Homo sapiens: one gene and its partners. The protein of the gene in region 4 purifies or fractionates together with the protein of the main gene of each other region. This does not show direct contact. Each region holds a gene or a part of one and is shown on either strand. Other genes may lie near its edges. The genes, in order: CTSV, SLC30A9, DPY19L4 and VNN2.

Region 1 (6,995 bases), on a different chromosome or scaffold from region 4:
CTGGAGTGCAGTGGCGCGATCTTGGCTCACCGCAAGCTCCGCCTCCCGGGTTCACGCCATTCTCCCGCCTCAGTCTCCTGAGTAGCTGCGAATACAGGTGTCGGCCACAACGCCCGGCTAATTTTGTTTTTGTATTTTTATTAGAGATGGGGTTTCACCATGTTAGGCAGGATGGTCTTGATCTCATGACCTCGTGATCTGCCTGCCTCGGCCTCTCAAAGCACTGGGATTACAAGTGTGAGCCACCGTGCCTGGCCATGATTTTCTTAATGACATTTTTTCCTCTAGCTTACTGTAAGCATACAGTATTTTACAATACATACACAAAATATGTGTTAATTGGCTGTTTATGTTATCAGCAAGGCTTCCAGTCAACAGTAGGCTATTAGTAGAAAAGTTCTGGAGGAATTAAAGTTATATGCAAATATTTGGCTGCACAAGGGTTGGTGCCCCTAACCTCTGCATTGTTCAAGAATCAACTGTATCCAAATGAATAAATACACTGCAGAACAAGAACACGTTGCAGCTTAGTAATAGTTTTACTTATTAACTTACTTAAAAAGAGATAATGAACATTTGTGAAATTGTTTACAATTGAGATATCCATACACACAAGTCATGTGCTGTGTGATGTTTTGGTCAGTGACTGCATATATGATAGTGGTCCCATAAAATTATGATCCTATATTTTTACTGTACTTTTCTGTTCAGATACACGAATACTTACCACTGTGTTACAACTGTGTACAGTACTCAGCACAGTGATGTGTTGCACAGGTGCGTAGCTTAGGAGCAACAGGCTGTACCATATAGCCTAGGTGTGTAATAGGCTATACCATCTAGGTTTGTGTCAGTGTACTCTATGATGTTCACGTCACGATGAAATCACCCAAGACACATTTCTCAGAATGTATCCCCATCATTAAGCAACACATGACTGTATATATACATTTACTAATGTTTGTTATTTTTAATACAGAAAAGTTTCTTCTTTGCTTTTTAGAAATTTTATCAGTTACAAAAGGAAATAACATTTAGAAAACAGTTTCAACTTTCATAGGCAAAACATACACATGAACCACACATAGGGCTGAGTGGATGTTTCCTTATTGCTAAGTCCATAGCCTCTAGTATGATGCCCAAGTGTCATAACTACACTCCCACATCAGCAAACTCCTCCCTCTTAATATGCTCAGTGATTTCTATCTCACCCTTCCTTACTTCCTTTGCAATTCAAGTAAGAAAACAAACAATTTAGATGTTCGAGTATAGGAAATATTTGCCGAGACCAGCTTGGTCATGGAGACCCTAACCCAGAGGCGCTAGAGAAATTAAAGACACACACCCAGAAATATAGCATGCAGAGTGGGAAATCAGGGGACTCACAGCTTTCAGAGCTGAGAGCCCCGAACAGAGATTTACCCATGTTTATTGACAGCAAGCCAGTGATAAACATTGTTTCTATAGATTATAGATTAACTAAAAGTATTCCTTCCCAAACGAAACAAAGGCATGGGGTCTGGCTAGTTATCTGCAGCAGGAACATGTCCTTAAGGCACAGATCGCTCATGCTATTGTTTGTAGTTTAGGAACGCCTTTAAGCCGTTTTCCCGCCCTGGGTGGTCCAGGTGTTCCTTGCTCTCATTCCGGTAAACCTTCAGCATGGCGTCATGGCCATCATGAACCTGTCACAGTACTGCAGAGATTTTGTTTATGGCCAGATTTGGGGGCATATCCCCAGCAAATATTGGTTAAGTCTGTGCTTCAGACTAGATTTTTCAAGTCTACTGGCTTGTTTGAAAAACGCTTTTAGACAACACATCAGGTTTGTAACTTTTCACAAGTTTAAAATATTTCAAAGGTCTTTGAAAATTATAAAATCTTGAAATATCTCTATTTTAGTTTTCCGAGGGGTGCTGTTTTGACAGATTTGAAATTTTTTTATTTGAATAAAAAGCCATCACTCTTTCATTCAATTTAGTGCCTAGATGTTTCCTTAGAGCCTGGGTTGTTGTTCCAAGAATCTGTGGAGAGTACCAACTTAGCCTGCTGCTGCAAAGACGAAGGAATCCTTTCTCAGAGAAAACTCAAGACTGAATATGGTAGACTGGATTTTCCAGAGATGGCTGTGGACATAGGCTATCAAAGGGTTTTTGGGATACACAGTCCCACATGCCCCTTCCCTCCCATTGCATTCACAATGGATCACCTTTCGATTAAATTTCACCAGCTCATCCCCGGTAATTTTTTATTTGACTGGAAACATGGGCTTTTAAAACACACACAGGGCTCTCCTTTAGCCTGCAGAATGTGGGTATATCTTTACTATTTTCTCCTGCTCATAAAAATACATGCTTTTCACTAAACGAGTTAAATAACCACCCATAATTCACCCACAAGTTTGGTGTACTTTCTTCCAGTATTTTAAATATGCAAAAATATCGTTTTATTTGTATTTACTACCTGTGTAACTATATGCTTAGCCTTTTTCCCCCCATTTTGAGTTTATTTTTAATTCAGGGATTAGGTAGCCAGAGTCTGGCCTAGTGACTTCTGACCTTTCACTTGTGATCTCTTATCCATCTTCGGCCAGAGGCCTCTTTTTGTAGCCCAGCCTCATCTCTTGTGGACCTTGAACAAATTTCTCCAGCTACTGTCAAATGCCTGAGATTTGTTAACCACACCATTTATTTTTGCTAACACTAGTTAACAAATAAGCTTTTCTAGAAGAGCTAGGTGGAATATGTCATCAGAGACTTGGAATGAAAACAAAATACCCTTGGTAACTTACTTGCACCTGCGTCTTCCTCAGACTGCAAAGTGGTCACCAGCAATTCAGAGAGGCTCCAGTAACAAGCAGCTTCACTTTTTATCACGTAACCTAACCATCTTGAGGTTATGTGTCAAAGGAAGAAGACATTTCCTTTTCTAAAAAGTCAACTGCTTTCTTCTTTACTAAAACAATTTAGGGGCTGGGCGCAGTGGCTCACATCTGTAATCCCAACACTTTGGGAGGCTGAGGCAGGTGGATCACGAGGTCGAGAGTTCAAGACCAGCCTGGCCAAGATGGTGAAACCCTCTCTCTACTAAAAATACACTAGGCGTGGTGGCACGCGCCTGTAATCCCAGCTACTCGGGAGGCTGAGGCAGAGAATTGCTTAAACCCGGGAGGCAGAGGTTGCAGTGAGCTGAGATCACACTACTGCACTCCAGCCTTGGTGACAGAGTGAGAGAGACTCCGTCTCATAAAAAAAAAAAATGTAGGTTTGTCCTTCCAAATTGTTTATCAAATTTTGGTAGATTCAGGAGTTGGGTAACACACAGTAACTGGGCAGCTGATATAAAGTCTGTATTTTTATAACTACTCAAGAGCCAGGAAGCCAGCTTTCTGCTAGCATCTTTCTCCTAACATACCATTGGCACATGAAGTTATTATTTCAGAGCTTAATTATATTTCCTGACTACACAAAAAGCCAATGCATTAAAAAAAGGCCCACCTTTATATACGAATTAAAATTTATTTCAAACTGTTTTGTACATCTTTTTAAAAAATGAAAATTCAAAAGTCTTAGAATTAAGCAATGAGTCTTTGATATCATAAAGCTGTGTATAACAATAATTAAAGTAGTGGTAACATTTTACCCTTGTAAAAATGTCACAGAATTAAAATCTCAACTTGGATCCTCAATGATTCAACTGGTTTATCTTACACAATAAGCGTTTGGTCAGTTTCAAGATAAAATTTCCCCAGACATGCTGTCCTTAAGTCCTTCCTCCTCACCATCCATCAGCTCACACATTGGGGTAGCTGGCTGCTGTGGCGATTCCACAGTGGTTGTTCTTGTCTTTGGCTATTTTTACATAGCCATTCGAGCCCCATTCTGGACCCCAGCTGAAAGAGGAGCAGGTTTTCCATTTTATACAAGGAATCAAGGGAAAATTGGCTCCATTAATAATAATAGCTAATACTTAAACAGTGCTTCCCATGTGTCAGGCACTATTCTAAATGCTGTTAATATCCATTTATAAATGTCCTGAGGCTGGGCACAGTGGCTCACGCCTGCAATCCCAGCACTTTGGGAGGCCGAGGTGGGCAGATCACTTGAGGTCAGGAGTTTGAGACCAGCTTGGCCAATCTGGTGAAACCTCGTCTCTATTAAAAATACAAAAATTGGCCAGGTGCGGTGCATGCCTGTAATCCCAGCACTTTGGGAGGCTGAGGCGGGTGGATCACCTGAGGTTTCAGGAGTTTGAGACCAGCTTGACCAACATGGTGAAACCCTGCCTCTACTAAATTAAAAAAAAAAAAAAAAAAAATTAACCGGGCATGTAATCCCAGCTACTTGGGAGGCTGAGGCAGGAGAATCATCATTTGAACCCAGGAGGCAGAGGTTCCAGTGAGCCAAGATTGCACCACTGCACTTCAGCCTGGGCAAGAAGAGCAAAACTCCATCTCAAAAGAAAAAAACAAACAAAAAAACCCCCATAAAAATTGGCCAGGCGTGGTGGCGCATGCCTATAGTCCCAGCTACTTGGGAGGCTGAGGCAGGAGAATCACTTGAACCCGAGAGGTGGAGGCTGCAGTGAGCCGAGATTGCACCACTGCACTCTTGCCTGAGTGACAGAGCAAGACTCCATCTCAGAATAAAATAAAACTGGCTGGGCACGGTGGCTCATGTCTGTAATACCAGTGCTTTGGGAGGCCAAGGCAGGCGGATCACATGAGGTCAGTTCGACAGCAGCCTGGCATACATGGTGAAACCCCGTCTCTACTAAAAAATACAAAAAAAATTAGCTGGGTATGGTAGCACATCCCTGTAGTCCCAGCTACTTGGGAGGCTGAGGCAGGAGAATCACTTGAACTCAGGAGGCAGAGGTTGCAGTGAGCTGAGATCGTGCCACTGCACTCCAGCCTGGGTGACAGAGCGACACTCTGTCTCAAAAAATAAATAAACAAATGAATGAATGAATATATTGATTCTTGTGGGTCCTTAACTATTTAAGATACTGAGGCAGAACTGGAATTCCACTGTAGCAGTCTGTCCCCACATACTACCTTATGTCACATCTCAATTAAAGAATGCTAATTGTGAGAAAATAGATTCTGACAACCTTCAAAGCCTGAGAGCTGGGGAGTGAAATTCGATGACAGGGCATCCAATGACAATAGAAGGATGCACACAGACCACTGGACTCCCGGATGATCTCTCAGACTTAACAAAGAACCAGCAGAGGCAGATGTTTCTGCTTACTATTCCTTGTTGAAAAATTAGACAGAAAAAAGCAATCAGCTCTCAAACCTACAGGTCCACAGTCCTTTGTCTGAAACCCTTGAGGACTAATGTGTTTCAGAATTTAAAAATTTTCAAAACTTAGTAATAAAATATTACAAATACATAGCAATAACTCCAAAAAGCTTGGTACGGAATCTTATAATCAAACATTAATATTTCTGTGTTCACTCTAAGTAGAAGAAAGACTTTCGGAATTTTGAAATTGAGCTTTTGTGAACTTGTATCCAAATACTGATTTGGAACAAAAATTCCCTTTTCAATTTTGAGTTTTATACCTGTTTTTGACGAGCCAATACTTGCTGTTATTCGAATTTGCTCCTTCAAAGCCGTAGCCAACCACCAGAACACCATGATCCAGGTTTTTGCTGCTGCAGTCTGGTTCAAAATAAATGCCTGGGAGAGTAAAATTAATGCTGGGGTGAGAAGCTCCAAGCGACATGTGACAGTAACCCACCCTACCACCCTCCATAAGGGAGGCATCTCTAAATTCAGTAAAATGTCATAAACAAATGCCAAATAAGGACCCAAACAATATTGGCCGGAAAACAGTAATGGCTGATAAAGGAAAAAAGTCAACCTCAACTCACTAGAAATCAACTAACTTCAACTAAGTTCAAGATATTTTCTACCAAAAAAAATGAAAATCCAAAAGATAAAACCTATTGTTTACAGCTAAGGTGATTTAGATATCTCTGAGCCCAAATACCAACTCGCATAATCCCTTTCTGTTCCTAGGATGTCAGTCTAAAATAGCACCAAAATAAACAAACAAAAACTTGAAGGGGATTCTTTACAGTCCTAATTACAGTAGTAAAAAACTTTGAGAAAAAAAGGCCCAACAACTGGAAAATAGTTTGGAAAATTAGGTTGTCTCTATACAATTACATAGCCATTTAAAAATATTTATGAGAAGTTTAACATAACTAAGTATTTTCTCATGTCAAATGCAAACATCACTATGTTAAATGCTCACTCTCAAAATACTACATTCCTGCAAAGCAGGATGTCATATCCAAGAATCAATCACAGTGATGCTTCCCAATTCTGCCTAAATTTCTATAATAAAATGACACTTACCTGATTTGTAGAACTGGAAGGACGAATGGCCTGCATCCATAGCAACGGAGATGGGCCCCACAGTTGCGACTGCTTTCATCAGGGCCTTCTCCTTTCCAGGTGCGACCACTGTGAAGCCAGTGTCATTAGCAACAGAATTCTCAGGTCTGTACTTACAGATTTCATCCTTTTAAAGTTAAAGGGGGAGAGACTTGATCACTACCATCTACCTCCTGGGGAACATTAGTTCTAGAACCGAAACACTCAGCAATTTGCAACCTAGGATTTCCAAATCAACACCCTTATAAATCGTCCCATGAAATAAAATGCTATTTGTTGATTTGAAAATGAAAAATTAGTTGACATTTCTTCAATGAGAACCCCTAGGTCAATCTGTCCATAAAAAATTTTTCACAATGGATAAAGTTCTATTATATGTAGAATGGTTTGCTTATTCTCCATGTTATGTAAAAGCAAGAACAGCTGTGTGTTAACCATCTAATGGTACTTATATGGTAACCATTAGCTGTTGACCATCTCACCAGAGAACTGTGCAAAGGCTAATAATTTTTTTTTTTTTTTGAGATGGAGTCTCGCTCTGCGGCCCAGGCTGGAGTGTAGTGGTGCGATCTTGGCTCACTGCAA
Region 2 (6,461 bases), on a different chromosome or scaffold from region 4:
CCGATTATAAAATGATTAAGAGTTATTATAGTTAGGTTTTGTACGACCAAAAAGAAATCCTAAAAACTAACAGGCGGCCGGGCACGGTGGCTCACGCCTGTAATCCCAACACTTTGGGAGGCAGAGGCGGGTGGATCACGAGGTCAGGAGATCGAGACCATCCTGGCTAACATGGTGAAACCCCGTCTCTACTAAAAATACAAAAAATTAGCTGGGCGTGGTGGCGGGAGCCTGTAGTCCCAGCTACTCGGGAGGCTGAGGCAGGAGAATGGCGTGAACCTGGGAGGCGGAGCTTGCAGTGAGCGGATCTCCAGCCTGGGCGACAGATCGAGACTCCGTCTCAAAAAAAAAAAAAAAAAAAAACTAACAGGCACACTGAATGAGTAACAAATTCTGTTCAAAAACATAGGCATAAAAAATATATCAGATTATATAGTTTAGTTCTTAGCACATGAGGTAAAGAAGAATTTATGTTCAACAAACATTTATTTCTCAAGGGAAAAAAAATCCCAAACTAATAAATGAGTTGCCTTTATTTACATATGACATTTATTAAGGGAAAAAGTATCCTGAGGGACCAGGACCATCTTAATGTGCCAGGGAAATCAGACAGATGAAATACAATATAACGAATAAAAATTTTCTTTTTGCATAAAGCCAAGTCTAAGGATGCAAGTAAACTTACATGCAAATATAAAGGCTGTCAGACTAATCTATATAAATGGCTTCCAAAGTTCCATTTCAGAGAAAGAAATGAAGGATTTAGGGGAGACAATCTTTGAATCAACATTTTACCTTCGATTCTTTGCTTCACTGACTTCTGACAGTTTGGCAAATTGGGGTTCATCACATTTAAAAGAAATGCTGCCAAAGCTTGACAAATGCAGTCTAAGAAGATAATACAAATTCTAAATGCCTATGCAGTTTTCTGTAGTTCCCAGCATTCTTCCTCAAAAAGTTACGAGACTTAAAACTTAGGCACTCTTTAGATGGTTATCATTTTAGCAAAAATCATTACCTAAATTATGAGATAAGGTAACACTGAAAGCCATATACCAAAAACTCAAGCCTTATGACATTTTGTTATTCACTTTGCACTATGTGTGTGTGTGTAGGAGGATGTATGCAGGGATTACCTTTGCTTTTGAAAAAATTTGAAAATTTTTCCGTCTGATCTTATCTCACAGGTTCTTTAGTGTATGTTCAGGAACTTACCTCTTTGGAGTTGGATACTATAGGCCCCCAGGATACTCCACTTAAAAACAGATCACCGGAGCAGTGGCTCACACCTGTAATCCCAGCACTTTGGGAAGCCGAGGAGGGCGGATCACCTGAGGTCGGCAGTTCAAGACCAGCCTGACCAACATGGAGAAACCTTGTCTAAACCAGAAATACAAAATTAGCCGGGTGTGGTGGCGCATGCCTGTAATCCCAGCTACTCAGGAGGCAGGAGAATCACTTGAATCGGGAGGTGAAGGTTGCGGTGAGCTGCAATTGTGCCAGTGCACTCCAGCCTGGGCAACAAGAACGAAACTCTGTCTCAAAAAAAAACAAAAAAAACAAAAACACTCCACCCCTCATCCTCCCACTGCCATGATGAAAACTGTGCCACCTTATATAGTTTGGGGACTGCTACTTACAGTGAATTAGAGATCCATTCTCAGCCAAAGCTAAAAGTAGGTACAGATGCTTTTTACTTATTATTGGGTTATGTGCCAATAAACCCATCATAAAAATTCTTAAGTGCAACCATTATAAGTCAGGGACCACTGTATACCTCACCTTTGATAAATCCTAGATTTTAGTTTTGGGCAAGAAGGAATCAATCATGGACCCTTGACTGCCCCTCCTCTGTCCAGTATTATTTTTGTAATTATTCTCCTGCAGAGAATATTTTCCTTAAAAATGATTTATATGCTTTAATACTCAAATGCTATATGCCAAAGTAGATACAAAGTAAGAAACATTAATTTGGTAAAATAACAAGAAACCTGAAAAACTAAATATAGCCTTATTTTTGGAGAAAGAGACCCAAATTCTCTTTTTGAGACAGGATCTCACTCTGTCATTCAGGCTGGAGTGGCATGATCATAGCTCATTGCAGCCTCGACCTCTGGGGCTCAAGTGATCCTCCCACCTCGGCCTCCCAAGTAGCTGTGACTACAGATGCTGATATGCTTTGGATCTTTGTCCCCACCAAATCTCATGTCGAATTGTAATCCCATGTTGGAGGTAGGGCCTGGTGGGAGATGACTGGATCACGGGGGTGGAGTTCTCATGAATACTTTAGCACCTTCCCCTCTTGGTACTGTATAGTGAGTTCTCATGAGATCTGGTTGTTTACAAGAGTGTGGCACCTACCCCCAATCCCCGCCTCTTGCTCTTCCTCTGGCTATGACTGCTTCCCCTTCGTATTCTGCCATGAATGAAGTTTCCCGAGGCCTCCCCAGAAGCAGAAGCTGCTATGTTTCCTGTTCAGTCTGCAGAACCATGAGCCAATTAAAGCTCTTTTTTTGATTACTCAGTCTCAGGTATTTCTTTATAGCAGTGTGAGAATGGACTAACACAGGTGAGCACCACCACACCCGGCTAACTTTTTTTAGTAGAGATGAGGTCTCGCTGTGTTGCCCAGGCTGGTCTTGACCTCCTGAGCTCAAGCAATCCTCCTGCCTCGGCCTCCCAAAGTGCTGGGATTACAGGCATAAGCCACCATATCCAGCCCAAATTCTCTGATTTGAAAATTCAGTGACTCTAGAAAAATTTCCTGATTCCACATAAATACTCAAATTCCTTGATATGTTGTACTCCTTTATGTCTTATTTTACATAAACAAACTTTATGTAAGTTTATCAGTGCAAAACAGAATTAGAAAAGATGGCAACATAAACCTTCAATTATTATTTAAGAATGGTATGACCTCAACCAAAATCAGATTTAAAAAGAAATATCAGAATTTTTTTTTTTTTTATTAGGGAATCCTAAAAAAAAAAAATTACCATTTGGAATACCTGCTGCACATTAACTTTGAGGGTCGTCTTGGGAAAAAAAATGAGTAATTATTCTTGTCTGGCTTTGTGAAATTTTTCAGAGTAATATCACTAGGAGGAAACTGGATATAATTTGGTACTTTCTCATATGGCAATGACATGAAGTAATAAATGGCAAGTGGGAAAGGGGAAGGAAGAAGAAAAAAGTATAGAATAAATCATAACAGGTAAAAAAAAAGTTTTTTTTGTAAAGAAGGGATAAGGAATTTGAAACTGTAAGAATAGAGTATCAAATTATATATATATATAACAATTTTCTATCTTAAAAATAAAACTGGAATGTTATTTCACTTAAAATGTACAGCATGCAAAATACTCTGTAATAGTAAAAAAAAAAAAAAGAAAAATACACCAACGTAAAGTCTCACAATTTTCCAGTAAATGAGATTTCTGGGTCAAAAATCACCATTACAAACCCTTTAACCAAGGATTTATTTTTTGTTTCCAGCATTACAATTTGCAATAATTCATAGATTTCCATTCCAGTAAGTTTTAAGACACAGATCTCACACAGGCAGTTGGGTCCACATGTTAAGAACTCATTAATTCAGCAAAGAGATCACCCAGCCGCCATTCTCATATGAACAATGCTCACTGCTACCTGAACATTTTAAAGTATGTTATGAGTTGTTTTGATGATGACAGCTGCAGCTTTTCACCACATTTTCAATTACTGAATTGCATGTTTTTTTTCCACCTTGATAACTTAGGGTCAGTAGAAAGCTATTTACTTACATGTTATAGTCAATATAACTATACTAAATGCCCATTTGTAACTGAAGAAACTCACAGACACAGTATGAACTATATTATACAAAATCATGACCATGAGTTTCAGTGAGAGATTCTGTCTCTCTCTTAAAGCAAGAAATATCCCACAGCTCAGATTTACATAAGTAGTGCCGCCTTTTAAATAAAAGTCAAATGCTGTCCTGCCTGTAAAATTATAAATATTTCTAACCCACTTTACAGAATTTTAAAATGCTTATAAATGCATTATCTTCCAGTAAATAAACATTATGGTACTGAACCTCATTTAAAAAAAAGTCATCACACTGGCCCATGGAAATATCTAGGACTATATCTCCTAACATTAGAAAAATTAAACCAAATAAGGGGAAAAAAGCAAAGAAGAAAAAAGAAATTTTACAAAATGGCAACTACTATGACCTAAAAGAGTGTACTGAGATGTCTTCATTCAATTCAGTAACTAAACATTTCTGGAATGAACATTTGTAGATAACTAGGTAAGGAGAGTGATTCTCTTAGCACTCAGGTCAAAATCACAAGGTATGGAGAAATAATTTCCACATTCTATAAGGAAAGACAGACTTTGAAACGGAGTGACTGTTTAAAAACCACATACCAAGATTTAGCCAGAATATTGAAGATTGGCAGATCTTGATGGAGTGAAATCTTCAGAGGCAACAAATTAAAAATCATGATCCTATGGATGCCACTTATTTTTACCAATGTGAAAAAAGGAAAGATGATTGCAAAGTACAGTATACACTGAACAGGTGAAATATGGGACATTATGAACAATTTAAATAACCAAAATGTTCCCTATGGAAGCATAAAAACATGATTTTCAAATTGATTCAACTTGTAGTGTGTCTGTTAGATGTAAGTAGTAGTTTTAGTTCTGTGTCCTGCTGAGTTGCTCTTTACATAAAATATTTCCTTCATCTTAAAAAAAAGGCTTCTGCATGGCACTGAGTCTTTCAGTGTAGGAGAGGAGGAAACTTTGTAGAGTGGACGGACAAACTTGTTTCCAAGGTCCCCACCCAGGTGATTCATTCCATCAAACTCACAGTATCTCCAAATCTACATGTCGAACTTCAGGATTTCGTTTCTGGAAAGAAAAATCACCACCACATTATTTGTAGCAAAATAAAATCTTGTTTCTTTTTATTCCTTTTGGTCATTAGAGCCAATGAAAACATTTGCAAACTATTTCACTATAGCATACTAATGAGAGAAATAGTTGCATAAGAAAAAAAGTAAGATCAATAGGTAAATAGACATACTATAAACAGTACAATAAGTAGTATCACATTCCTAAGTTTGTTCATGTGTTTGTTAATACAAAAGTGCATTAAGGATCTAGTACATGCCAAGCATTGCGAAGCACTGGAAATACACATTTTTGTGTGGTGAAAACAAAATCACTGCAAAACAATAATAATCAAAAAGAGTAAATTGACAACCACTCATTTTATATACTTTAGCAACAATCCATATATTCTTGGGCCGGGCCCTGTGCTAGAAAACAGAGCTATGATTATTAAATAAGACTCTGTTCCTGACCCTGAGTGACTCAGTTTAGCTAGGGAGACCAGCATAGCAGTAATCATCTACAAGTTAAAGTATTAGAGCTAATAATAAAAAGTTAACATTTATTGCTTACTCACTCATGTATCAAGTACTGTGTTACATGAGCACATGTATGTGTGTTTTAAAAGCCTCATAACCTAATTACTATTTCCATCTTATACATACATCAGGGAAAACTGAAGTACGAAGAAATTAACTAACCTGTCTGAAGTCACACTGCTAGTAAGTGATGGAGCCAGGATTGATTCCAGGCCTGACTCCAGGCCTGATTCCAGATCCCAAGCTCCTATTACACTGTACTAAATAATAACACTGGGAGCAAAAATGAGACAGCCATTTTGCTCATGAGATCTAGAAAATTTCACTGAGGATATAATATCTAAGGTAGGTCTGCATATGATGAGCCTTCCAGGTAGATAATGAAGAGTGTCTAGACAGAAAACACAACATCAGCAAAGTCAGACAGCCTGCAAAGTGTGCACTGGCACTATGGTATAGCTAGCACAGAAGCTGCAAAAAGGGTAGGGTTGGTAATGAGGCTGGAAAGACAGGCAGAAATCAGGTTGTTAAAAATCTTATATGCTAGCTTAAGGAACTTCAATTCAATAACAACCAATACTGTCTACTATTACATGCCTACTCTGTGCCAGGCATTGAAGTGTATATGACAATGAGCTGGGAACAAACAGTATTTGCCTTCAGTGGACTTACGTTTGGTAGTGAGGTGATATAGGTAAATTAAGTAGGCAATTACAACACTCGGCTACCACAGAGCAAAGTAAAGATTTTGGGTTTCTTTTTCCTGTGAGTGCACAAAGGAAGGGCACCTGGCCGGGCGCGGTGGCTCACGCCTGTAATCCCAGCACTCTGGGAGGCCGAGGCGGGCGGATCACAAGGTCAAGAGATCAAGACCATCCTGGCCAACATGATGAAACCCCATCTCTATTAAAAAGTACAAAAATTAGCTGGGCATAGTGGCGCATGCCTGTAATCCTAGCTACTCGGGAGGCTGAGGCAGGAGAATCGCTTGAACCCGGGAGGCAGAGGTTGCAGTGAGCCGGGATTGTGCCACTGCAC
Region 3 (7,029 bases), on a different chromosome or scaffold from region 4:
TGTCTTCCTTGATGCAGTAGAGGGCCAGGGTGTTTATATTTATGCTTTCTGAACGCAATGTTAGAGCAAAGAAAGAAGTGACAACCTTGAGTAGAGCAGTATTAACATTTCACTTGGAAACTGCTATGTCTAGCCTGGATAGACATTTGAAAGTCTGTTTGTAGCCCTACTGTTTCATATGAAGATGACTGGACTGAAGTCTGAAATAGCAGGTTACTTTTGTGGATGTGTAATCATCTTCATTTAGTTTGACTTTTTCTTTACAATGCTAAAAATATCAGATAGTGAAAAGGAGTGGCCGGGCGTGGTGGCTCACGCCTGTAATCCCAGCACTTTGGGAGGCCGAGGCGGGCAAATCACGAGGTCAGGAGTTTGAGGCCAGCCTGGCCAACATGATGAAACCCCTGTCTCTACTAAAAATACAAAAAATTAGCTGGGCGTAGTGGCGGATGCCTGTAATCCCAGCTACTCGGGAGGCTGAGGTAGGAGAATTGCTTGAACCCGGGAGGCGGAGGTTGTAGTGAGCCGGGATGGCACCACTGCACTGCAGCCTGGGCAAAAAGAGTGAAACTCCGTCTCAAAAAAAAAAAAAAGATAGTGAAAAGGAAACCTGAATTACATCGCAGAGCTTTCCTGTCAGAACTGATAATCTCATTTGTCCATTGCTTTGGCCTTTGCTTTTTTTCCACCTAGAGATGTGTGACTTTGTTTTTCCATTATGAAATTATATGAAAAGTTAGCTTTAGGGATAAGGTTGAAGAGATGAGCTAAAATGAATACTGTATTTATCGAGTCGTACTTTTGGCTCTTACAGTTTAATGCCACTAAAATTGATATGTCTTAAAATCAGTGCACACATTCAGTATGACAGTGTGGTTTTTTTTCCCCTTGAAAAACCTATTAAGTAGTATCTTCAAACGTATGGCATCTTAGAATCAGGAAAATATAATATTATAGATCTTTTATAGATTACATATTTGTATGGTCCTTGATCATTGCTAATATAAGTTCTTGAGAGATGATTGTTGAGATTTGTATACTTCATAAATTACTTGAAAATCTATGCAAAATGTTTGTGTAAGTTGTACTTTTATAAACAAAAATCATTTATGGACACAAAGAGAACATGTTTAATTAAAGTCCTGTAAAGCGATTTATTTGATAAAGAACATTTTTAAAAAGGAAAATGATAATTTTTTGTAAGAACACATTTTATGTGACTATTCCCCTCCCAATTTATCACTAAGTGTGTATTTTTAGACTCTAATGGAAAAGACCCACCTACCTAGCCCATTGGTCACATATAGTATATTTGTTGACTATCTCAATAGATTTGTTAATTTGACTTCTGAAATTATCCAATTAAATGTTTTAAAGTCCAATGCTATTACGTGATTAATCATGCAGGTGTACCTGCAAAGGAAAGTTCTTGTAGTTATATCTTCCCCTTGTATTCTTTTAAAATAAAATTAAAAACAATAATTTGCTTTTGAAGACTTATATTTGATTTTGCATAAATATGCGTTCTTGTTGACTGCTTCTAACTTTTACTTTAACCTAGAGCAGGGGAATATTAAAGAGGCATAATGAGGAAGGAATATAGTAATATTTACTAATTGACCTAGATTTATATACAGAAATACTCAAAGTCTGGGGTATGTTTTTCTAATAATGTCATTTTTTGTTTTTTTTGTTTTGTTTCGTTTTGTTTTTGAGACGGAGTCTCCCTCTGTCACCAGGCTAGAGTGCAGTAGCGCGATCTCGGGTCACTGCAGCTCCACCTACTGGGTTCAAGTGATTCTCCTGCCTCAGCCTCCTGAGTAGCTGGGATTACAGGAGTGCACCACCACACCCGGCTGATTTTTCTATTTTTAGTAGAGACAGGGTTTCACCATATTGTCCAGGCTGTTCTCGATCTCCTGACTTCAGGTGATCCACCCACCTTGGCCTCCCAAAGTGCTGGGATTACAGGTGTGAGCCACCATACCCGGCCTAATAATGTCATTTTAAAATATTTTCATTGATTTCACTACTTAACATGACTACAGAATAAATGGTAGTATAGAAATGGGTAAACATTAGATTCATCAGTCTGAATCCACTAAATGTACAGCTTTTTTTTTATCACTATGCCAGTGTTTAAAGATATTTTAGTGAACATACAAGTTTGCTATGAAGCTATTTTAAGATACATTTATTTTATTCATTTTCCACAGTAAAGCTAGAGAACATCCATCTGATCAGCAGCAACTGATTCATTTCTCCTTCTTTGACTTTTATGTTTATTTTCACATTTCATAGCCTGAAGTTATTACTAAGAGAAAGGAAGAAAACTGTCTTCCACTTCCATGAGAAAGATAAATTATTGTATCACTTTATAACTTGGCAGGAACACTCTGTACTTACAGTATCATAATCTATCCCACAAGATGATTAATTCTAGGGAGGAAAAGTATAAATTGTATATAGTACATTCCTGTTCATCTTGGAGTTTAGTTTACTAGTTTGGAGGTAACTTCTGCATCACATTTTCTGAAACTGGAGCTAGAAGAGGAAGATAGTCTAATCCTGGGAAATTATTTTGAGACCTTCTCATATATAGGTATCTTTGTAGGTTCAGCCTATTTTCTAATACCTAAATCTATAAGATTGTACAATGCTAATGATAACACAGCACTGAAATTCTGCAGAACTTTTAGGGTTATTTAAAAACAGAAGTGTAGTTTATGATGAATGTATTATGTTTTGATTTTTTTTTTGAGATAGAGTCTCGCTCTGTCGCCCAGGCTGGAGTGCAGTGGCACGATCTCGGCTCACTGCAAGCTCCGCCTTCTGGGTTCACGCCATTCTCCTGCCTCAGCCCCCCAAGTAGCTGGGACTACAGGCGCCTGCCACCATGCCAGGCTAATTTTTTGGTATTTTTTTTTTAGTAGAGACAGGGTTTCACCATGTTAGGATGGTCTCGATCTCCTGACCTCGTGATCCGCCCACCTCGGCCTCCCAAAGTGCTGGGATTACAGGCGTGAGCCACAGCGCCCGGCTATGTTTTGATTTTTAAAGAACAGTTAAACCATAAATTATGCATTTGATACTTTAAGGTAACTAGAATTATGAGGTGAATAACACCTTGACCCCCAGTTTGGAAAAGAGCTTACTTATTTTGGGATGTTTTGAAAATTCCATCATCTTGGGAGAAGAGCACATTGGTTTACTATTAGGATTGTCAAAACACAGATTGGGAAGTGGAACTTAAATTGTCTTTTTTTAGACAAAAGATAATTTTGCAGGGGTGCCAAAATAATTATGAAAAGGTTATCTTTGATACTAATAGGTCTTAGTGGTACTTTTGCTTTAGAATAATAAAGGTTAATTGGCTCAGGATACAGATTAAAACAATTTTATACACACATTGCAATAATGTCTTAAATATTTTAAGGACCACCTGTAGAGCTGCGCCAAAGAAAAAAGCCAAAGTCTTCAGAAAATAAGGAATCTGCCAAAGAAGAGAAAATCAGTGACATTCCAATTCCTGAAAGAGCTCCAAAACGTAAGTTAGATAGACTTGGAATTTGTGCTACTACAAAAATAGTTTACACTAGAAAGTATATTTTATGTCAATATTTTAAATATACATATTTTGAGATTAAGTATATGCTCAGCTTTCACTAGGTTTTGGACAACCCCCAAATCTCACTGGCTTATGACAAACATTTATTTCTAATTAATATTACATGTTGTGGCTGCAGTTTGGCTGTCGTAGTTTTATGTGTTGCGAAGGAATAGTCCGTATTTGGGAAAGATTTTTCTTGTGACGTAGGAAAAGAGGAGGCAGAATCATGCAATGTCTCTTAAAGTTTCTGCTGACCTGGCACACTATCACTTGTACGCACCTTTTATTGGCCAAAGCAAGTCATATAATCAATTCAGACGATGGGATGTGAAGTATACTTTGATTACAGGGAAGTGTTCCAGGTCACATGGTAGTGGGCAGGGATATATAAGATTTTTAAAGGGAAGGAGAAAATAGTTGTGAATAATAATATAGTTTACCACACCCTGTCCTTGTGATTTATTTCTCTCCCTCAGACAAAATACGCTTACTTTTTCCCACACCCGAAAACTCTCTCTTATCTAGTCACAGCCTTAATCTTGAACCCAAAGGCTTATCTACATCAGGGCCAGCTATGACTCATTCTAATCCAGAGATCTATGAACTAAAAAGACAGGTTATCTGTTTTATGTCGGGGGTTCCCCAGAACACCCCCATGTTTGGTTATTAGCTGGAAGGACTCACAAGTTTCAGAATGAAGTTGTATTTACAGCTATGATTGATTGATTGATTGATTGATTGATTTTTGAGACAGAGTCTCGCTCTGTCACCCAGGCTGGAGTGCAGTGGCACGATCTCAGCTCACTGCAACCTCCACCTTCTGGGTTCAAGCGATTGTCCTGCCTCAGCCTCCTCAGTAGCTGGAACTACAGGCACATGCCACCACGCCTGGCTAATTTTTGTATTTTTGGTAGAGACGGGGTTTCACCATGTTGGCCAGTCTGGTCTTGAACTCCTGACCTCAAGTGTTCCACCTGCCACAACCTCTCAAAGTGCTGAGATTATAGGCATAAGCCACCGTGCCCAGCCTACAGCTATGATTTATTATAGCAAATAATATAAAACAAAATCAGCAAAGGGAAAAGGCCTATTTTGGTGAAATCTGCAAGAAACCAGGCATAGGCTTCCAAATTTCCACTCCAACAGAGTCACACAGGATGGGCCTGATTCCTTCAGCATCAAATTGTGACATTTGTAAAGTTTTATCTACCAGGGAAGCTCATTAGTGACTCAGTGCTCAGGGTTTTTACTGGGGGCTGGTCATGTAGGTATCCTCTGCCTACCATGTCCCAAAATTCTTGACTCCCAGAAAGAAAGCATAAACTACATTGTTTGTACAAAGAGGATAGGCACTGTTATCAGTTAGAGAATGGTGGGAACTCTCCTGAAATTGAAGTTCCTAGATGCCAGCCAAGAGAGCCTACCTTGCAAGCAGGGCTTTCTTTTTTTCCTTTTTCTTTTTCTTTTTTTTTCTTGAGACAGAGTCTCACCCTGTCACCCAGGCAGGAGTGCCATGGTGCGGTCTCTGCTTACTGCAACCTCCATCTTCTGGGTTCAAGCAATTCTTGTGCCTCAGCCTCCCGAGTAGCTGGGATTATAGGCATGTGCCACCACACTTGGTTAATTTTTGTATTTTTAGTAGAAACGGGGTTTCACCATGTTGGCCAGGCTGGTCAACTCCTGACCTCAGGTGATCCGCCTGCAAGCAGGCCTTTCTCAGGAAAGCGGTCTCAGGCCTGCTGTGTTAACTCTTTTCTGCACATCCCCCCACTCTCAGTATACACTGTTGGACAGGGACAGGATATCCCCTTACTCTGGGATAAGGAATCTGTTGTGTTTATGCCCCAGTTGTGTTCCTGGGGAATTGTTTTCCAGTTCATTGTTTTCCATGGTCCTTGATTTTACACTCTAGAGATCTTTTCTCTTCCATTTTCCTCTATAACCATATCTAAAGATGGGTTTGGAGAATGTGTCATCCTTAAGGGCTAAACAGCTTTCTCAGATTGCTTGCTCTGCACTAAAAGTTGAGGCCTATATATAAATTTGCTCAAGATAAAAGCTGTGGGTAATCTACAAATCTAGGTGAGGGGCTGGCCGCAAGAAAACTATATTTGGGAGCTGGAAAAATGAAGATCTATATTATATCATGACAAAACATTTGATAATACTGTTTCCTGTGAACAGTTGACAATACTATTTTTTTCTATCATTTTAGGTAATGAGATTGCAAAACAGAATGTTACTAGAGTGCCTTTGTTATTAACATCTGCATTTGACTACAGGAAAGAGATCTGGGTTTAGAATAGAATTGGACTATTTGTAAGTGGGAATAAAGAAGAAAATAGAGAATCCCAAAATTCTGGGACTTGTAATGTTGAAGTGAGAACAGTTTATTAACCAGGCATGGTGGCTCGCGCCAGTAATCCCAGCACTTTGGGAAGCTGAGGCAGAGGATTGCTTGAGGTTAGGAGTTCAGGACCGTCCTGGACAACATAGTGAGACCCTGTCTTTATTTAAAGAAAAAAAAAAAAGAAAAAGCTGTTTGTCTTTTTCAACCAATGAAAGTTAAAATCAAGAAATGGGAGGCCAGGCACGGTGGCTTAAGCCTGTAATCCCAGCACTTTGGGAGGACGAGGCAGGTGGATCATGAGGTCAGGAGATCGAGACCATCCTGGCTAACATGGTGAAATCCCGTCTCTACTAAAAAAATACAAAAAATTAGCTGGGCATGGTGGCATGCAACTGTAGTCCCAGCTACTTGGGAGGCTGAGACAGGAGAATCGCTTGAACCTGGGAAGCGGAGGTCACAATGAGCCGAGATTGTGCCACTGCACTCCAGCCTGGGTGACAGAGTGAGACTCCGTCTTAAAACACACACACACACAAATTTAAACTTAGGCAATATAGTGAGACCTCATCTCTACAAAAAATCAGAAAAAAAAAAATCAGCCAAGTGTGGTGGTGTGCCCCTGTAGTCCCAGCTACTTGGGAGGCTGAGACACAAGAATTGCTTGAATTCAGGAGGTGGAGATTGCAGTGAGCCGAGAATGTGCCACTGCACTCCAGCCTGGGCAACAGAGGAGATTCCATCTCAAAAAAAAAAAAAAAAAAAAAAAATTTAAGCCTAGGCAATACAGTGAGACCTCATCTCCACAAAAAAATTAAAAAAAAAAAATTAGCTGAGAATGTGGTGGTTCATGCCTGTAGTCCCAGCTACTTGGGAGGCTGAGGTAGGAGGATTGCTTAAGCCTGAGAAGTGGTGTTTGCAGTGAGCCAGGATCACGCCACTGCACTCCAGCCTGGACGATGCAGCAAGACTCTGTCTCAAAAAACAAACAAACAAAAAAGTTAAAAAATTTGAAAAATACAACGTAAGAAAGAAAATTAAATAGTCTAGAAATATCGATTACAAAATAGTA
Region 4 (7,419 bases):
CTGTGCTCAGTGGCTCATGCCTCTAATCTCAGCATTTTGGGAGGCCAAGGTGGGAGGACTGCTTGAGGTGAAGAGTTCAAAGACAGCCTGGGCAATGTAGTGAGACTCTGTTTCCAAAAAAATATTTAAAAATTAGCATGGTGGCACATGCCTACAGTCTCAGCTACTTGGGAGGCTGAGGCAGGAGGATCACTAGAGCCCAGGAGTTTGAGGTTAACAGTGAGCCATGATGGCTCCACTGCACTCCAGCCTGGGCAACAGTGAGACCCTGTCTCTAAAAAAATATAAAATTATTGAAACAGTGCCCAGATTATAGTCACCTTAGTATCTTTTTTTATGTTAAAATTATTTGTTTTATATGTGCAAAAAGTTTATCTCAATCCTGGACCATCATGCTACTTTTTTTTTTTTTTAACAGTTCTCTGCCTACATGTTTTTCTGAGTAGTTTTTTACAACGTGTCATTTTCTTTTTTCTTTTTCTTTTTTTTCTTTTTTTTTTTTTGAGAGTCTCCCTCTGTCACCCAGGCTGGAGTGCAGTGACACAATCTCGGCTCACTGCAGCCTCCACCTCCTGGGTTCAAGCAAGTCTCCTGCTTCAGCTCCCACATAGCTGGGACTACAGGCATGTGCCATCACGCCCCGCTAATTTTTGTATTTTTTAGTAGAGACGGGGTTTCACAATGTTGGCCAGACTGGTCTCAAATTCCTGGCCTCAAGTGATCCACCTGCCTCAGCCTCCCAAAGTGCTGGGCTTACAGGCATAAGCCTCCACGCCCAGCCAAAAGTGTCATTTTCTTTATTGCCCACTTTCAAAAAACAAAAAACAAAACAAAACAAAAAAACCCTCTAGTAATATTGTATCATATAGGGAATGAAATTCAAACTCCTAAACCCAGCATTGACCACTCACAACACGCTCCATTTTACACGTCCGTCACTCTCTCTTACCTTATGGTAACGTGCCACGAGTTTTCCTTCTGTATTATACACCACATTGGTATTGTATTGAAAGTAGCCATTAGGAGGACATGTGGAGTCACGGGAATTACATGGCTTTTTGTCCCCCAAATTTGCCAAGACATAGATAGAGTTGTCCTTGGCCAGGCAGCTGAGTCTTGCTTGTACTGGTGTGTGACCAAATCTAAACCAAATTATAATTAAGAAATTTCAATTTTAAAAAAATATTTTAGTCACTTTATATGGAAACGATAGCAACTGTAACCACTTAAGTGGAACTTAAGTTAATACAAAAACTATGCCTAAAAATATCATACTTTAAAAGCCACAGATGATTATACACTTGATGAATGCTTCCCACACGGTATCTATTGCTCCAGAAATTCATTATTCGGTCTCCTGCCTCATCAAGGGTCTCCTCTCTACTGAAACATCCCATCAGCAATGAAATATCCTCTAGTACCTCCCATCTTTAAAAAATAAAATTAAAACCTCTTTTGACCTTTCCAAACATGCCCTTCCAAATATTGCTTTAATCCTCATCTCTCTCTTAAAGCAAAACTCCTCAAAAGATCAGTCCCTCTTGCTGTTGCCAGTTCCTCCTCTCCCATTCCCTTTCAGAGCACTCCAACTTGTATCTCTATCACCCAAACTCTTACTAATGCCAGCAGTGACCCCCACATTTTACCTGATCTCATCTTAACTTTTCAACAGCAGTTGGCACAGTTAATTACACCTCCTTCTGGAAACACCTCACTTCTCTATTGGACCCACCCTCTCATTTTCCTATTTATTGGTTGCTCTTCTTCGACTCTTCTGCTGATTCCTCGTTTTCTTCCGAGTCTAAACACTAGAATTTCCTAGTGCTCAAGCCTTATACCTAAACTCTTCTCTAACTCACTCCACAGGTGAACTCATCATGGTGTTTAACACCATCTATATGCTGACATTTGATTTTCTATCTCCAGATATAATTTTGTCTTTTCATGCCAGACTTGTCCATGCAACTGCCACGTTGACACCTCCAGGATGACAGTAGGACCCAGATTTTTAATATATATTAGAAGGTTTCTAGATAACCTTTTCCCAGGAAAATTAGATTTGTGAGCCTAGGAAAATGCAGTTTCAAAGCATAAGGTCTTATGATTCACTTGAAAATACATGGTGAAGTCTTTCTGCCTAAGAAGCAACTCTGGAATGGAGAGACTCTATAACATTGAAAGGGTGTCCCTTCAGCAGAGGCTTTGGAATGTATTCCTAACACAATCCACTGTCTACTTCAGAAATTAAGTTACTACTTGTATCTATGAGATCTCTTCCCTTAGTTTTTCTTGCAGGAATACCCTATTTACACATTTTCTCAAAATTTAATAAAGATTTTCAATCACAAAAGATTGTTAAATAGTATCTAAGTACAATTTTTTAAAATCTGACAAATGTTGAGATAAATATAACCATAACATATACCACATATATGGTAATTCAAGAGCAATCATTTTGCTTTGGTGAACGTGCGCATTTTAGAGAGTTACTTTTGCACAAAAGACTAAGATAGTTAAAATACCTGTGGGGGTCTTGACACGGAATCCAGTTCACCTGAGGGTCTGGGATATCCTCCAGATAAGGGAAAACAGTTTCCCTGGTAAATTTCCATCCATAAAGTGCATCTTCTGGAGTCACAATGATTCGAGCACCCTGTTCAAAACAAGCAAAATAAAAATGATTTTTCCATGTACAACACAGACAATTCAGCTCTCTCGTCTTCCACCAGCTCCCATGCCCCTCGTGTACATTATGATTAACAGAAATAAGAGAATACCTGCTCAGCTGCCTGCTTGATCGCTGTCTCCAGAATGTCTATATTCTCGTTCATGAGATTCAAGGCATCCTCCTGAGAAACTGGTGTTTCTGTTTTATTTGGCAAAATGACAGCATGTTCATACACTGCAGCTATAAAACTGTCCTGAGTACCAACCTGCAGGGTTATTAGGGCAAAAACTGCCACAGAGATTGGAAAAGAGGAAGTGACCATGGCCAAGGTTTAGTGATTTCTGAAAGCAAAAATAACATTCATGTAGTATTTACAGAGGGGAGAATGTTTGCATAACATGTGGCTGCCAGTTACTGGCCTTTTACTTTATCATCATTTTTCTTCTTCTTCTTCTTCTTCTTCTTCTTCTTCTTCTTCTTTTTTTTTTTTTTTTTTTTTTTTGAGGCGGAGTTTGCTCTGTCACCCAGGCTGGAATGCAGTGGCGCAAGCTCAGCTCACTACAACTTCCACCTCCCAGGTTCAAGCGATTGTCCTTCTTCAGTCTCTGAAACAGCTAGGACTACAGGTGCGCGCCACCACGTCCAGCTAATTTTTGTATTTTTAGTAGAGATGGGGTTTCACAATATTGGCCAGGCTGGTCTCAAACTCCTGATCTTGTGATCCATCCACCTCAGCCTCTCAAAGTGCTGGGATTACAGGCGTGAGCCACTGCACTTGGCCTACTTTATAATCTTAAGAACGCAATATATCTGACCACTTTTAAAGAAAGAAAAGTTGCAGTCCATTTAAGACAATCAGAAAGTATTACAGGGATTGAACAGCATGTACTATTAGTACTAAGATTTAATATTGAATTTCCAAAAGACACCCGAATTCAAATATAGAACAATTCCAGCTTTTGTTAATAGAAACTCATAACTAACTCTCGTGTAAAAAAATCACATCCCAACAAATATCTCATTTATTAAATTTAAAAATTGACAACAATTTTTTTGGTTCTGTTGAGTCACTTACATTGTGTTTATTTTTAGACGGGGGGGAAAATATTAAATACTTACTACTAAGAAAATGTAACACAGGACAATATTGATAACAAAATTTACCCAAATCTACACTCTGACTTACTTATTGCTATTAAGGACTGAAAACATGTGCTCCAGAAAAGCAGGATTTTGTGTCTGGTTTGTTCACTGCTGTATAGTTAGTGCCTACAGCAACAATACCCCGAGGCACCTAGGCCAGAGGAGGAATCTCAGCTCAGGGGCCCCAGGCCTCAGGATACTCCGCTTCTTTCCTTCTTTCTCTCTTTCACCCTTCCCTCCCCATCCTCCCCCTACTTCTCCTTCTCCTCCTACTCCTTCTCCTCCTTCTTTTTCCTCCCTCCCCACCCCCTGCTTTGGAGGAAGATGCCAGGGAAGGGGAAGAGTCCAGGATTGGTGATAAAGATCATCTGTGTTGTAATAAGGAGAAGATGTAACTTACATTTTTGTTAGCAGCAAATAACAACAATGAGTTTAAAAACAATGCTAACAGGCCAGGTGCAGTGGCTCATGCCTGTAATCCTAGCACTTTGGGAGGCCGAGGCAGGCAGATCACCTGAGGTCAGGAGTTCAAGACCAGCCTGGCCAACATAGTGGAACCCCCCATCTCTACCAAAAACACAAAAAGTAGCTGGTCGTGGTGGTGGGCGCCTGTAATCCCAGCTACTCGGGAGGCTGAGGCAGGAGAATCGCTGGAACCCAGGAGGCAGAGGCTGCAGTGAGCTGAGATCACACCATTGCGCTCCAGGCTGGGCGACAGAGCGAAACTCCGTCTCAAAAAAAAAAAAAAAAAAAAAAACAATAATAACAACAAATACAGGATGTGATCTCAGATGCCTTCTTAGGACATTCATATTCTCCCTTCCCCAGGCCCAATCCTGCCAAATAAAGGATTTGTTTTATTTTTATCCAGCCCTTTGGTAAAAGTCACGGAAATGCTTTTAGACAGCATAGAAGAGTAGGTACGATTAAACAAAGTTTATTCTGTGCTTTCCTTCTTACTGAGATAAATGTTTTGTTAAGAATGGGGCCTAGGGGCTATAAATAAGATCTGCTCATATTTTCTGCTTTGAATAGAAGTTTCTATTAAAGGAATAACTTTTCTTATCTCTATAGAGCAGAAAACTAAAAATAATTCAGGAAAAATGGTCAAGCCCTTTTGTGGAAAATGTAAAGGGATAGATATTTTTATGAATTTTTAGCAGATTGTATAATAGACTGTTAGTATATAACCATACTATCTAGTGTATAATTAGTAAATTAGCATAGGTGATTGGTATATAATAGATTATGAGTGCTGTTAGAGTTTAGAAATCATGTAACCCAAATGCCCACTTATTACAGGATAGGAATCTGAGGCATAGAGAGCTAGAGCGACAGAGCAGGATGTTCGCTTCTCATTCCTGATTCCAGAGTCTTTCCTTTATACCTAAAACAGCACATGTGTCTGTGCTCTCTTTTAATGTCTGCAACTGAGTGTCTGAACACTCGTGTCTTTTGGGGTTTTTTTGTTTTTTGTTTTTTTGTTTTGAGACAGAGTCTTGCTCTATTGCTCAGGCTGGAGTGCAGTGGTATGATCATGGCTCACTTCAGCCTCCACCTCCCAGGCTCAAGTGATCCTTCCACCTCAGCCTCGCTAGTAGCTGGAACACCAGGTACGCACCAACATGTCAGGCTAATTTTTGTTATTTTTTGTAGAGAGGAAGTTTCACCATGTTGCCCAGGCTTGTTTCAAACTCCCGAGCTCAAGCAATCCACCCACCTTGGCTTCTGAAAGTGCTGAGATTATAGGTGTCAGTCACTGCAGCCAGTCATTCATGTCTTTTAAAGAACCCAATTCAAAATGATCACCTTAAGAAGACCATAGGCAAATTTGCTAAGTGCTAATGAAATTTCTGATGCAGTTGATGCCTAATAAAAACAATTAAGCTCTTCCATCTCCATAAGTACAATTTGGGCCATGACCTACCTTCATTGATCTAGTATCACCAATTAGTAATACTTAATTAACTCTTTTGCTTTTAAGTAGTCAGGTAAGCTGATGAGGAGGAGTTAACAGTTTTATAATTTTGGCAGTAGAAGTGGGGACAATCATATCTGTTATTGTGTTCCCAAATCTGGATGTTTTTCTCTGTCCTTGGCTGTAAAAGATAGAAATGATGTTGATCAGAGTTTTGGATTTTTTGTTTGGCTAACAGGGAAAGGGAAAATCACTTCTGATATAAAATCAAGATGACTAAATTCCCTCCTTTGTTTTTTTATTTGAAGCATCTAAAAATTGTCTCATTGAAACTGAGAATTTGAGTAACAAAGGTAATTGCAAAAAAGAATTAGAAGTTAGTAAATGAAGGAGCAATTTAAATATAGGAAAATCCCTGAGATGTGAAGAAAATATTTGCTGTAGAGGTCATTGATATTGTTTTAAATCTTCAGAAGTAAAAAACCAAATTCAGGACATACAGTTTCAATAGTTGACTTTTCATAAAGATGATTGATCAGGTAAAGATTAAAATTTTTAGTTTAACTGAATTATAAAATAAAGTAAGGTTATTTTGCCACAGGGAACATTGATTAATTGTAATTCGTTGCTAAAAGAGCCTACTTCCTAATTTGCCATTTTGGGATTAATGAACTTAGCTAAAGGGGTAAAAAGTTAAAATCAATTAAAAATTATTTGGTCAAAGAGTCACCATAAAAAAAAAAAAAACAGTATTGGGGTGGGCGCAGTGACTCATGGTTGTAATCCCTGCACTTTGGGAGGCCGAGGCGGGCGAATTATTTGAGGTCAGGAGTTCGAGCCCAGCCTGGCCGACATAGTGAAAGCCAGTCTCTACTAAAAATACAAAAACTAGCTGGGCATGGTGGCAGACGCCTGTAATCCCAGCTACTCAGGAGGCTGAGGCGGGAGAATTGCTTGAACCCAGGAGGAGGAGGTTGCAGTGAGCCGAGATAGCACCATTGCACTCCAGCCTGCGTGACAGAGTGAGACTCTGTCTCAAAAATAAAAAACAAGCAAATAAACGAAAAACAGTAATAGCTCAAATATTTGTTTCTAATTGTGAATCTGATCATCTGTTAGAATAATGTTCAATTGGACTAGGTTTTAGGTCTTTAATTTTAAAAACCTCATTTTTTTCCCACTTTCTCAAGAGTAAGCATAGGGGTGTAGTTTCTGCTTTGCACCACTTCTTTGGACCTCTATTTCTCATCTAAAAGTTTAGGTAATCATACCTGCTCTATCTCCTAAAGATATGTGAAAGTCCTCTGTAAGACTACAACGCAGATGACAATAATTAACAAAAGTGAGTGACTATTTAGTAATATAATATCCTGACTGCTTAATATTATTTCATTGTTAGGCCCACAGAACTACTGTTGTTCAATTCAAATTCTAGTCTATTTGGATGACCGTGCTGAAGAACTGCTGGAATGAAATGGGGTTGACAGGGTACCTGGGCATCAACTCCTGATTCGTGCTAAACCCAGCGTGGTAGAAAAACTGCAGTGGGGTAGCAAAGGTGAAACAAGAAAACCAAGGAACTCAACCCCAGGAAGGAGAGGAGCTGCTCCAGGCTCTGACACTGGCTACTGGACTTCCTGTTCTGTCCCTTCTCCTGAATGCAAAATGACAAGTGAACTGAGAAACAAAG

Evidence for each region.
Region 1: the proteins of VNN2 (region 4) and CTSV purify together in Homo sapiens (affinity purification with mass spectrometry; 2 studies listed by BioGRID and IntAct, with this or other methods). This does not show direct contact.
Region 2: the proteins of VNN2 (region 4) and SLC30A9 purify together in Homo sapiens (affinity purification with mass spectrometry; 2 studies listed by BioGRID and IntAct, with this or other methods). This does not show direct contact.
Region 3: the proteins of VNN2 (region 4) and DPY19L4 purify together in Homo sapiens (affinity purification with mass spectrometry; 2 studies listed by BioGRID and IntAct, with this or other methods). This does not show direct contact.

The regions. Positions count from the first base shown.
Region 1 is NC_000009.12:97,029,157-97,036,151, forward strand, and holds the end of CTSV (cathepsin L2 preproprotein), read right to left. Parts: intron 6,538-6,995; coding exon 6,372-6,537; intron 5,688-6,371; coding exon 5,570-5,687; intron 3,893-5,569; coding exon 3,793-3,892; 3' UTR 521-3,792; downstream 1-520. UniProt on the Homo sapiens protein: Cysteine protease. May have an important role in corneal physiology.
Region 2 is NC_000004.12:42,084,523-42,090,983, reverse strand, and holds the end of SLC30A9 (proton-coupled zinc antiporter SLC30A9, mitochondrial), read right to left. Parts: intron 4,903-6,461; coding exon 4,858-4,902; 3' UTR 523-4,857; downstream 1-522. UniProt on the Homo sapiens protein: Mitochondrial proton-coupled zinc ion antiporter mediating the export of zinc from the mitochondria and involved in zinc homeostasis, zinc mobilization as well as mitochondrial morphology and health.
Region 3 is NC_000008.11:94,722,895-94,729,923, forward strand, and holds part of DPY19L4 (probable C-mannosyltransferase DPY19L4), read left to right. Parts: intron 1-3,436; coding exon 3,437-3,547; intron 3,548-7,029. UniProt on the Homo sapiens protein: Probable C-mannosyltransferase that mediates C-mannosylation of tryptophan residues on target proteins.
Region 4 is NC_000006.12:132,754,894-132,762,312, forward strand, and holds the start of VNN2 (pantetheine hydrolase VNN2 isoform 1 precursor), read right to left. Parts: upstream 3,012-7,419; 5' UTR 2,991-3,011; coding exon 2,778-2,990; intron 2,654-2,777; coding exon 2,523-2,653; intron 1,143-2,522; coding exon 950-1,142; intron 1-949. UniProt on the Homo sapiens protein: Amidohydrolase that hydrolyzes specifically one of the carboamide linkages in D-pantetheine thus recycling pantothenic acid (vitamin B5) and releasing cysteamine. Involved in the thymus homing of bone marrow cells.